Regions from separate parts of the Homo sapiens genome. Here region 1 is linked to region 2. Evidence: fine-mapped QTL for protein levels in blood plasma. A gene starts in region 2. The other region holds a variant in brackets. All regions are shown on one strand. Distances are between the middles of the regions. Region 1 overlaps C7 (complement C7). Region 2 holds the start of C7 (complement C7).

The links. A credible set is the group of variants that fine-mapping cannot tell apart. PIP is the posterior inclusion probability: the model's chance that the variant is causal. Protein levels are from antibody-based Olink assays in UK Biobank. Linkage for the fine-mapping came from a reference panel and not from the study's own genotypes, which makes the PIPs less certain.
Region 1: its variant is the best candidate, but not a certain one, in a credible set for the plasma level of the C7 protein (UK Biobank, PIP 0.71).

The regions. Positions count from the first base shown.
Region 1 is chr5:40,980,187-40,985,545 of GRCh38, reverse strand. C7 (complement C7) reads right to left here. Exons shown (of 18, transcript NM_000587.4): 18 at 903-4,154. The coding sequence ends at 3,973. Among named protein-coding and RNA genes, the nearest start is that of C7, 73 kb to the right of the region's middle. The variant A/C (reference allele first, on the strand shown) is at 2,557.
Region 2 is chr5:40,906,986-40,912,344 of GRCh38, reverse strand. It overlaps C7 (complement C7), which reads right to left and starts at 2,848. Exons shown (of 18, transcript NM_000587.4): 1 at 2,729-2,848. The coding sequence starts at 2,734. It also overlaps the pseudogene RNU7-161P.

The DNA of each region.
Region 1 (5,359 bases), 73 kb before region 2:
GAAAGAAACAAGCCATTCTGTTTCTAACACAAGTATTGAGTACGCTTTAACTAGTCCATCAAGGAAGAAAAATCTCAGTGGACTGGTATGGCTACTCAGTTCTGCCAATCCCATACTAAGAATGGCCCAATTTATCTCTCTCTTTCTATCTCTCCTGCCTCCCCTTTTCTTTTCTCTTCTCTTCTTTGTCTATCCGCTCTACTTCAGAGAAGAGAAAGAGAAGTATTGGATACCCCTGAATACCCACTTCATCTTGTGCCCAAAGTATGCAATATCTTAAGTTTTCTTCAAGTTTATGATGATGACCACTTCCACTAGCTATTATGCTGTGAAAATAATCCAAATGCCTGTGGTGGGTGAGTATGTGTGTATAAGTGAGTAAGTTTGTGTGTATTATGTGTGAGTATGTGTGTATTATCTCCAAATAATCCAAATGCCTGTGGTGGGTGAGTATGTGTGTATAAGAAATGTGAATAGGAACATAAAGAAAATACAGAATAATGATAAACCATGGTGCCGTGGTTTGCATGTGTTTCCCAAAGTTCATGTGTTGGAAACTTAACCTCCAATGCACGTGTTGGGAGGCAAGCCTTCATAAGAAGTGATTAGGACATGAGGTCTCTGCTGCTATGAATGGATTGTGTTGTTGTAACGGGAATGGGTTAGTTATCATGAGGGTGCTTTTGTTATAAAAACGAGTTCAGCCCCTGCTTCCTCTTGCTCTCTCTTGCCCTTCCACGTTTTGCCATAGGATGATGCAGCATGAAGGCCCTGCCAGATGCCAGCACCATGCTCATGGACTTCCCAGCCTTCAGAACCAGCAGCCAAATAAATTTATGCTCATTATAAATTACCCAGTTGGTGATATTCTGTTATAACAGCATAAAACAGACTGAGACAGGACGGGTTCAAAAAATATTGATTAATACACATACCTTGACCGAAAGAAAAAGTGATTACTAATTGGACACATAAGTGGACACATAATAAGCCGGGCACATAAATGGACACATACTAGGCTGTTTCAGGGAATGCTGTATAAACCAGCTGCTCAGCACTTGCAGCTCTTAGCAGTTACAAAACAACTAGATGGTTCACAAGACTCATGTGAAGCTGAGATTAGCCATGATCTGCCCAGCAAAGAGGGCAACCCTCAATCAGATTAGCCAGTTACCTGGCTAGTTGCTAGGTAATCCAAAGTTCCGGGGGTCACTTGTCAGATTTCCTGCTTGGCACTCCACATCCCTACCATACCCTACCTGAATACGAAGAACCCTCCTTCTCTTTCAAGGTGATTACAAGTCATCCTGCACTGGGAAAGAAGGTTACATTAATAACAGTTTGAATGGGGCTCATTAAATCTCAGGGCTTAGAGAAGCAGCACTACTTTTGATCAATTAGGAAATACATAAGATGTCACAGGAAGGCACTTCTCAAAACGATTAGGAAATATTCTCAGGCACCTTCTCTGCCCAGGTAACTTGTAGCGTCCTCATGAGTGGTAAGCGATGATCTGTAGGATGTGCCTTGGCCTCCACATAGCTCCCTGAAGCTAGTGATGATTAATGCACCAGCCAATTTCCTTCTCTTTGTCTGTTCCTTCTGAGGGCCAAATGACTCTAATCTCAGCAATGCTTTCTGCCCTCTGCCTCCTCCAAGGCTCTATCCCCTTCTAACCCAGATGACCCTCACCTGATCTGAGGCACAGGAAAGGGCAGGAAGATGGAATTCTCACAGTCTTTATTCTTTTTCCATTTATTTTTGTGGTATAAAATCATTCCCTTAACTTTCCTCAAAGCCTCTCCATAGGTGTTCAAGAACTTATTTTGGAAGTTTCAAAACATTTTTAAAAATTTAATCTTAAAAATGACTTTCTCCTTGCTGACCTGCTGCGACAATCCTAATTCTCCACAGGCAATTGTGAATGCCTCTGTTGGACTAGAGGAAAGGTCAGCACAAGAATGTTCAGAAAAGAAAAGGAGGAAAAAAATACAGTATTTCAAGACAACACCTCTTCACGACAACATTCACTGCTCCTCTCCTTCTCCTCTCCTTGACTTCTCCTTCAATAACTCTGCTGAAATTCCTTTCTCAAACCTCTTAGTTACATCTACTCATTTCCTTTCTTTCAAACCTCAATCTCTGATGATATGTGATAATGCTGACCATATCCTCTGTATTATTTAGGAAGGGGGCATGGTGATACATAAGCGGTAGGAATCTAACTCCATACTAGCTTAAGCTAAGAGGAGAAATTATTGGAAGGATACTGAGGTATTTCCTTCCAAATGAATTACTTGTTCAACCTTTTGTCTCAGGGTCTGCATCCAGGCCTAGCATGTTCAAATGTGTCCTCCCATCCAGGGTAGAAATTAACTCTGTAATAACCGCTAACAAATGCAGTTGCAATGTCTGAATGTCATTGTTTTTAACCAATTGAAACCTGCCTCCTTGTAACTTCAACATATTATATCTGCATCTTCCCTTAGGGCACACTTTGATACAAAAAGCTAGATCTGGATCAGACATAAAACTTCAGGCAAGAACACATTAACC[A/C]TTCATCATGAAAATCTTCTCTAAAATGAAACATCATACAAATGAAACAATTCTGAAGAATAGCATCTTTAATGAGTGTTCTAATCCTTGTCATCTGAAGTTTTGAAATATATTTACCAGGGTCAGAACAATACAGAGATAGTATTTGTATAATATAGCTTATTTTAAATTTCATTTAAGCCCTCTCATTTCTCCTCCCACAGCTGCTGTTTTGTTTTGATGAAAGAGAAATAAGGAATAAATAAAAGGTCAATGCTTCAAACTAATCTACCTGTGTACTCCCTGAAAACTCTGGGACTGTATCCACAGAATAGGGAAAACTATTCTCAAATGCACAGTCACTCATGCCTCAGGCATGAACTGATGTTCTTTCAAAAGAAAAAAGAACAGGGGCAAACTTCCAGTCCTATGTTTGACACATACTAAAACCCCAAAGAGAAGACTGAATTGTATTTGTTCTCAGACAAGACACCCCTGTGACCACAGCATAATGAATTCTGCTCTAACATTTTAGTGGTTCAATCTCCCGACAAGAGTAAGTATTCCAGCCAGGCGTGGTGGTTCATGTCTGTAATCCCAGCACTTTGGGAGGCCAAGGCAGGCGGATTACCTGAGGTCAGGAGTTGGAGACGAGCGTGGCCAACATGGTGAAACCCCATCTCTACTAAAAATGCAAAAATTAGCTGGGCGTGGTGGCGGGCACCTGTAATCCCAGCTGCTTGGGAAGCTGAGGCACAAGAATCGCTTGAACCCAGGAGGCGGAGGTTGCAGGGAGATGAGATCACCCCACTGCGCTCCAGCCTGGGCAACAAAGTGAGACTCTGTCTTAAAAAAATTAAAAAAAGAATAAGGAATTCCTATCTGTGGTGGTTGACTCTATAGGATGAAGTGTGAGATTACTACTCAGGATAGAAATAGTTTGTATCTGTCATTTTTGTTCAAGTCCTCTTTATATTTGGTTCCATTGAGGAAAACCACCCTCTCTAATCAGGAGATCACGTTCTTTCTGTTATCCTAGTCATTTTGTAGAGTGTGTTCTGGCCCATGGGCTGTGTCAATCATACTTAATAAAATGATAGGCCTGAATGGAGCATTCAAGTTTCTCTAGTGCAATCCTCTAATTTTACAGATTTTAAAAAACCAAGGCCCAGAGAAGGTAACACCTATTTCAAGAACACGCAGCCAGCCTGTGCAAAGGCTCATATCCTTACTGACATTAAAAAGGAGGCAAAAGAGTAATTCGATTCAGATTTGGGAGAACAAAGGATTGTGTTTATACAGATGGCTGGGAGTTGAGGAGGAAGGTAGACACTGGAGAAGAAGGAAAAGCTGTCCAGTGCCCAGTTGTGCAGATGTTTTCACTCAGCCCCAGCTGCCTGCTGGATTCCAAGCAAGCTGACCAGGGCCTCCAGGAGCCTACTGGGTTTCCGCAGCACAAGGCCTTATGCTGGTGACAGAGATGCTCTGCCCTCTGCATCTCAGAGCGCCCGCCTCACACTCAGACATCGTCTGCTCCTTGCCGTTCACTTCCACACAAATGCTAAACCCTTCTTCCTCGCACTCCGATGCTTCTCGGCAGACACATTTGCTGCTCTCAGCTGGAAAAGTAAGTGAAAGAGGCTTAATGGTACATTGTGGAGGTCGGGGAGTCAAAGAACATCACCTCCAAAGTAATAATGTGGTGATCAGAGCTGTAGAAGCTCCTGCCTGGAATGACATAATAAATTATCCCCTGGAAAAGCAGTAGGACCAGGAAATTGGGGCATTTTGCTCCACTCCAAAGAAATAGGTTTTGAGGTTGGTAGCAGGCTTTATATTGGTTAGACCACATGGGGTGGTTTTATCCAAGTCAAGAGCTCTTCAACTATCTCCTACATACATGCTGCTGTCCATATAAGCCAGCAACTGAGGTCAAATGAGAAGCCCTCAACAAAGAACCAAGTCAAGACTCAAACAAAGAGAGAGAGAAAAAAAGAGAACTTAACTTGCTTTGAGAGAGAGCATGGCATGCAAAAGGCTACAAATCCCAAAAAACAAACCAGAAATGAGTTAAGGAGGCAAGGAGTCTGTGCATGGAAAGTCCATGGTTGGAATACACCAGCCAGGAGTCTTCCAAAGATGAGTAACAAGGTCAGCCAGCAGACAATGGTGACCACCTAACCAAAAGTGACCCAGACATGGCTAGAGTCACATATGTATGTCATCAGTCTGTGCTGCAAACCTTGAGGGAGTGAGGGGACAGGTGCCAGCGGGTACAGGCCAGGAGGGCAGAGAGTGAAGAGACGACAGAGACCTTACAAGTCATAGAGTCCAGCTCCTAAATTTACAGATAGGGAAGCCCAGACAGTGACTTGGCTCTGGAGACCCAGCCATTCCACTTTCATAGTACTGCCCAAATCATGGGAGGTTTGCTGTGCTCTTGGGGGAGTTCAAGATCACTGTAAGTACTACTTAAACATAGTGTTAGCAAATATTGAATCACAACGTGAGAAAGTAACTTCTTCTTTTATTCTCTTCAAATCCGTCTGATTACTTCTAGAAGAAAGTGTCAGCTTGGTGCTAGTATGTTTTTAACACCCCTCTAACACTTGCTAAACTCACAGAGAAACAGCATAGTCAATGTTGGACCAGTATCTGGCTAGAGTCCACAACTTTATTTAGTTCCATTACATATAACTTTTATAGTTACCTAGTATTTATGGCAAGTGATACCTCCTTTTAAGGACATGATATAAAGTTTTCATTTTTAAGTTATTTTTATGTCAGACTTTTAAAAAATGAGTACACAATATGGATAATACAA
Region 2 (5,359 bases):
ATACTTTTTATCATCATGGATGCCTTTGTCATCACCTTCTTCATATACATACTCATTATAACCCATCAAGGTCTGCTTATTACAAGACCAGTTCTGTTCATGTTATACAAAGTGAATCTACTAACCAAAAGCATTTCTTGAAATTTGGCTAGCCTTAGGATAATTACCTTTGGAAAAAATACCTTATAAATGAACAAGAGAGATAGAACAAACACAAATAAATCATGTGAATGACAGTGATAGACATACATCTGAACTGACTCTATAAAAGAATTGCTTGGTTGAAGAAGTATGTGGGGCCGGGCGTGGTGGTTCATGCCTGTAATCCCAGCACTTTGGGAGGCCAAGGCAGGTGGATCATGAGGTCAGGAGTTCAAGACCAGCCTGGCCAATATGGTGAAACCCCATCTTTACTAAAAAAAAAAAAAAAATACAAAAATTAGCAAGGCATGGTGGCGCACGCCTGTAGCCCCAGCTACTCAGGAGGCTGAGGCAGAAGAATCGCTTGAACCCAGGAGGCGGAAGTTGGAGTGAGCAGAGATCGTACCTCTGCACTCCAGCCTGGGCAACAGAGTGAGACTTTGTCTCAAAAAAAAAAAAAAAAGAAAGAAAGAAAAAGTGTGTGGTATTTTTGTTCTGTGTCAATGTAGCTAAGCTGGAACTACATTCCCCTGAATTATCTTCTCCTCTTTATCATCAATGAATGAGCATTAGCTCTACCTCCTTCTTCCAGTATGTCCCAGCTACAATCCTGATTTGAGACATTACTGTGCTTGACCATCACTGTGCTTGGGCACTGTGACGACCATTCCCTAGATTCACAGGCCCCAAGCTCAGCTCTCTCCTGGAGGGACGGAACAAATGGCTGGGCCACAGCCAGCTCCGAGGGAAGTCCCTTGTCCCTGACATCCTTCTCCAACACCTCAGATCCAAGTTATTTCCTATCCAAGAACACAGAGAGAACCAAAGGGAATCCTGTGACTGTCTCTCTGAATTTAGTTCACGTGGGGGCTGTGGGGCCAAAACATTGCTTCCTCTTAAAAAGTCTGACATAGAAACCATTTCTAGCTTCTTGATAGCCCAAGGCTTTCACAAGTGTCCCTTCTTTGTCACATATCACCAAAGCATGTCCTTCAGGTTTACTGTAAAAATATGAATGTCCACTTTCAAATACAGGTAAGAACTCTACATGCGACTTGGAGTGAAATAATTGCTTTAGTGTTACAGTTGTTTTAGAACTTGTCTATCAGGCTTCCCAATTTTTGCTGGAAAGCCCCTATATGTAAAATTTTTAAAAAATTAATTGCTTTATTTGTTGATATTTTGTCAACTAATTAAAGGATAGAAGTATATTTATTATTACAGCAGTAAAATATTATAATAATGATTGTAAACATGTTTTTAAGCACAAAGCAATTATTAAGATTTCTTATTGTAAAATAAAGTAAAAGATTAATAGTTAACACAAATATTAGGAAAAAACATTTTGGCTAGATAACTTTCAGAAGAGCATCATTTTCTTTTCTTGTTTTTTTTTTGTTTTTTTTTTTTTTGAGAGAGAGTCTCACCTTATTGCCCAGGCTGGAGTGCAGTGTCTAGTGTTGCCATCTTTATGCCCATGAGTACCCAATATTTAGCTCCCACTTAAAAATTAAGAACATGGGGTATTTGATTGTCTGTTCCTGCGTTAATTTTCTTAGGATAATGACCTCTATCTGCCTCCATGTTGCTGCAAAGGACATGATTTCATTCTTTTTTATGACTGCCCATCATAACTTTAAACAAATTAACTTTGTTATTTGTGTTTAATTTTAATTATTTAATTTCACAGAAGGCATGGCTTAATCAAGATCCATATCTTGCTCCTCCTCTAACCCCAATAATGAGCGAGCTTGGATTCGGTGCCCCAATGGACAATACAGTGACTATGGAAGCAATCTAGCCACTGACAGATCTGTGAAATTATTCCTACAGTCTTACAATGCAACATTTTTAAAGTTTAAATACCAAAATTTACAATAATAAAATTTGAATAGCAATCTCAACTTATTTTTGCATTCCAGAGATTTAGTCTATGATAGCGATTTCTATCTTTGGTCTTATCTTTTGTTGAATAGCTTTTTGGTTGTGTTTTGTTTTGTTTTTTAATATTTGGCCTTTTTGCATTGGGCCAACATGTATACTTGGTAGACCTTTAGTTTTATTCCATCTACTCATATCTTCTATTCTCACAATGCTGACTCTTTCATCCAGGATTTCAAATTCTCAAGTTCCAAGCCTGCAAATTTGCTTTTCTATTAGCTCTTAGATAAATCGCAGGACCCTACTGCATGGCTCCTAATCCAAACAAGCAAAAAAAAAAAAAAAAAATACACCAGAGGAAAGTTTTTCCCAAGAAATAACAATAGTACTATTGTATTTCTTTATGACTTTATCGGGACTTTCATAAACATTGTCTCCAATTCCTGATTCCCAGACCTCTGGACCTATAATTTCACCACAAGATAAGAAAAAGGAATTCACTTTGGCTGAACTGTTAAATATGTTTAAATAAGGATTTCTAAACATCACCCCCAGGTCTTTTTCTTCTGTATTTTCCTCTGGCCTTCTATTTATTTGATGTCTTTCAGTTAGGTATTACACCTCTTCGTTTAAATTACATTTATATTACCCCCGTTCATTTGAAAAGATAGCTTCATTTACAAAAGTAATGAATTTATTGTCTTACCTTCATGTTTGGGAAAACATTCAGGGCAGAAGAGAGGAGGAAGATTTCCTCTGTAAGGGCCGGGTAAGTTTTCAACAGCAGGAAGAGCCCAGCAGGCTGCCTGCCTCTCTGCCTCTCCCTGCTCTAGATTATCTTGGCACTCATATATAGAGCAAGTGGTCCTGAGATTTAGCTCCTACCCCAACCGGATTCTCCAACGACAGCAAGAGCCTGACCTTGTACTTAATCTGTGCCTTGAAACCAGATGCATCTTATCAATTACACAGCCTTAGCTACAGCCAGCTGGGACTGTTTGGAAGTTATAGATATGTTTCTTAGAAACATATCTATAAATCAGGAAACACAGCAAATGTTCTCAGTTCAATGTTTAAGTGATTTTCAACCAAAGGAGACTCTGTAAGGCAAGGGATGAGCCTCCTTCTTGTTTCAATCTACTAAACTAAGTGGATGTTTTCATGATTCTCTTAAAAGGTGTTATATGCCAGACTTTGAGATTAAATATTTTATGAAAGAAAATATTTAAATGCAGTTCTGTCACTCAAAATCTAAATAGAATGTTCTGGAGTAGAATTTTTCCCCAAAGTACAGCCTAATACAACCCAATAGTCATCCCTTCATGCTTAACTTTCACAGAATAATCAGAAAGAATATCAATTTTTGTAAACATATTTGAGGACATCACTAATTTTCTCAAGAACTTCACTTAATCCTTTGATAATCAGATCACTGTGTTGGAAAGTTCTTCTCAGGGTCATTATCCACATCCATTTTCTCTCCTTTGCTTTTTATCTTGTCTTATTCTACCAGGTCTTTATTTTCCCATAGCTTTGCATTGATTCTAGCAAGTCCCCAACATCACCTTCATACATTTAATAAAATGCTGCTTATTTTGCAAGATTTTAGATTTCCTATTGAAACTGAGCTACAGTTGGCCAGGCGCGGTGGCTCATGCCTGTAATCCCAGCACTTTGGGAGGCCAAGGCGAGCGGACCAAGAGGTCAGGAGTTCGAGACCAGCCTGGACAATACAGTGAAACCCCGTCTCTACTAAAAACACAAAAAAATTAGCCAGGCATGGTAGCATGCACTTGTAGTCCCAGCTACTCAGGAGGCTGAGAGAGAAGAATCACTTGAACCCAGGAGGCGGAGGTTGCAGTGAGCTGAGATCGCACCACTGCACTCCAGCCTGGGAGACAGAGTGAGATTCCATCTCAAAAAAAAAAAAAAAAAAAAAATTGAGCTACAGTTTTATTTGTATTGTTGGACCAAATATTCTAACACTAGCTGCTAGTGCATTATGAGTGAGGTAGAATAAATGTTAAGCGGGAAAGAAAATTTGAGTTAAGAATAATTTTATAAGTAAACATTCCATTAGTGAAGATTTTCTAGCTTTAATGACTTTTTCTTCCTATATCCAAAGCACTGGAATAATAAAGACAACCCCTATCCTCCCCTCATAAATTAATGGTGGTTTCCAGAGACAAAGCTTCCGCATCTTTTGTTCAAAGCTTTAGTGATTTGTGTGGAAGAAATTTTGTCACAGAGACAAAGATCCTGACTCCTGAAAGAAATATTTTTTATTCAGCTCCAACTGCATAAATTCCAGATGCCATAGACTCATCTTAAATTCTCAATATACAATTCCATTTCAGCGGCTCTCTTAGTTTGGGTTCCCCCAGAAGTAGATTCAGAAACAAGAATTCAATTGCAAGTAGTTTGTTTTTGTTTTTGTTTTAAGAGATAATCTTAGAAAGCACCACTGGAAGTGGGAAAGTGAGATTGGGGAGAAAAGAAAGTCAATAAAGGGTGTTTTATCAAGCAAGAGACTCCAGTGGGCAATTTGAGTTCAGTTCTAATGAGGAACTCTGAAAGACATTGCACACGAACTCTGCAATTAAGAGTTAGTCCAGCCAGGTGTGGTGGTTCACACCTGTGATCCCAGCACTTTGGGAGGCTGAGGTGGGTGGATCACTTGAGGTCAGGAGTTCAAGACCAGCCTAGCCATGATGGTGAAGCCCCATCTCTACTAAAAATACAAAAAAAAAAAAAAGCCAGTTATGGTGGTTCATGCCTGTAATCCCAACTACTCAGGAGGCTGAGGCACGAGAATCACCGGAACCCAGGAGGCAGAGGCAGCAGTGAAGTGAGATTGCACCACTGAAGAGACTGCACTGCTGAAGAGCAGCCTGGGTGACAGAGCGAGAGCCTGTCCCCCAAAAAAAAAAAAAAAAAAAGAGTTAGTCCAATTAAGGGGTAAGGAAACCCATCGCTGATGATGAAGGTAGCTTCTGAACCCATTGGCTCTCTGGCACTACCAGCTTGCCCTGGGGGCAAGCTAAGCACACGCCTGCAGCCATAAGTAAAGGTTTTCAAGCAGGGAATTGTAGCATTTGCAATATTTGCAGGTGTTTACCTTTGTCATTTAGAGGCGAGCGATGAAGGAATATGGGTAGGGTACCAACAGCATCTGCTACAGTAGCTTTTTATTTATATATACATGCATGTATTAATTTTTTCATCCTGAATTTGATCAATATTTTCTAAAATGTGTAATATGATAGGCTATCAGCTTTGACAGGTAGAAGCCTTAAGCTATATCCTTCCTTATTTTTGTTCTTTACATGCTATAAAG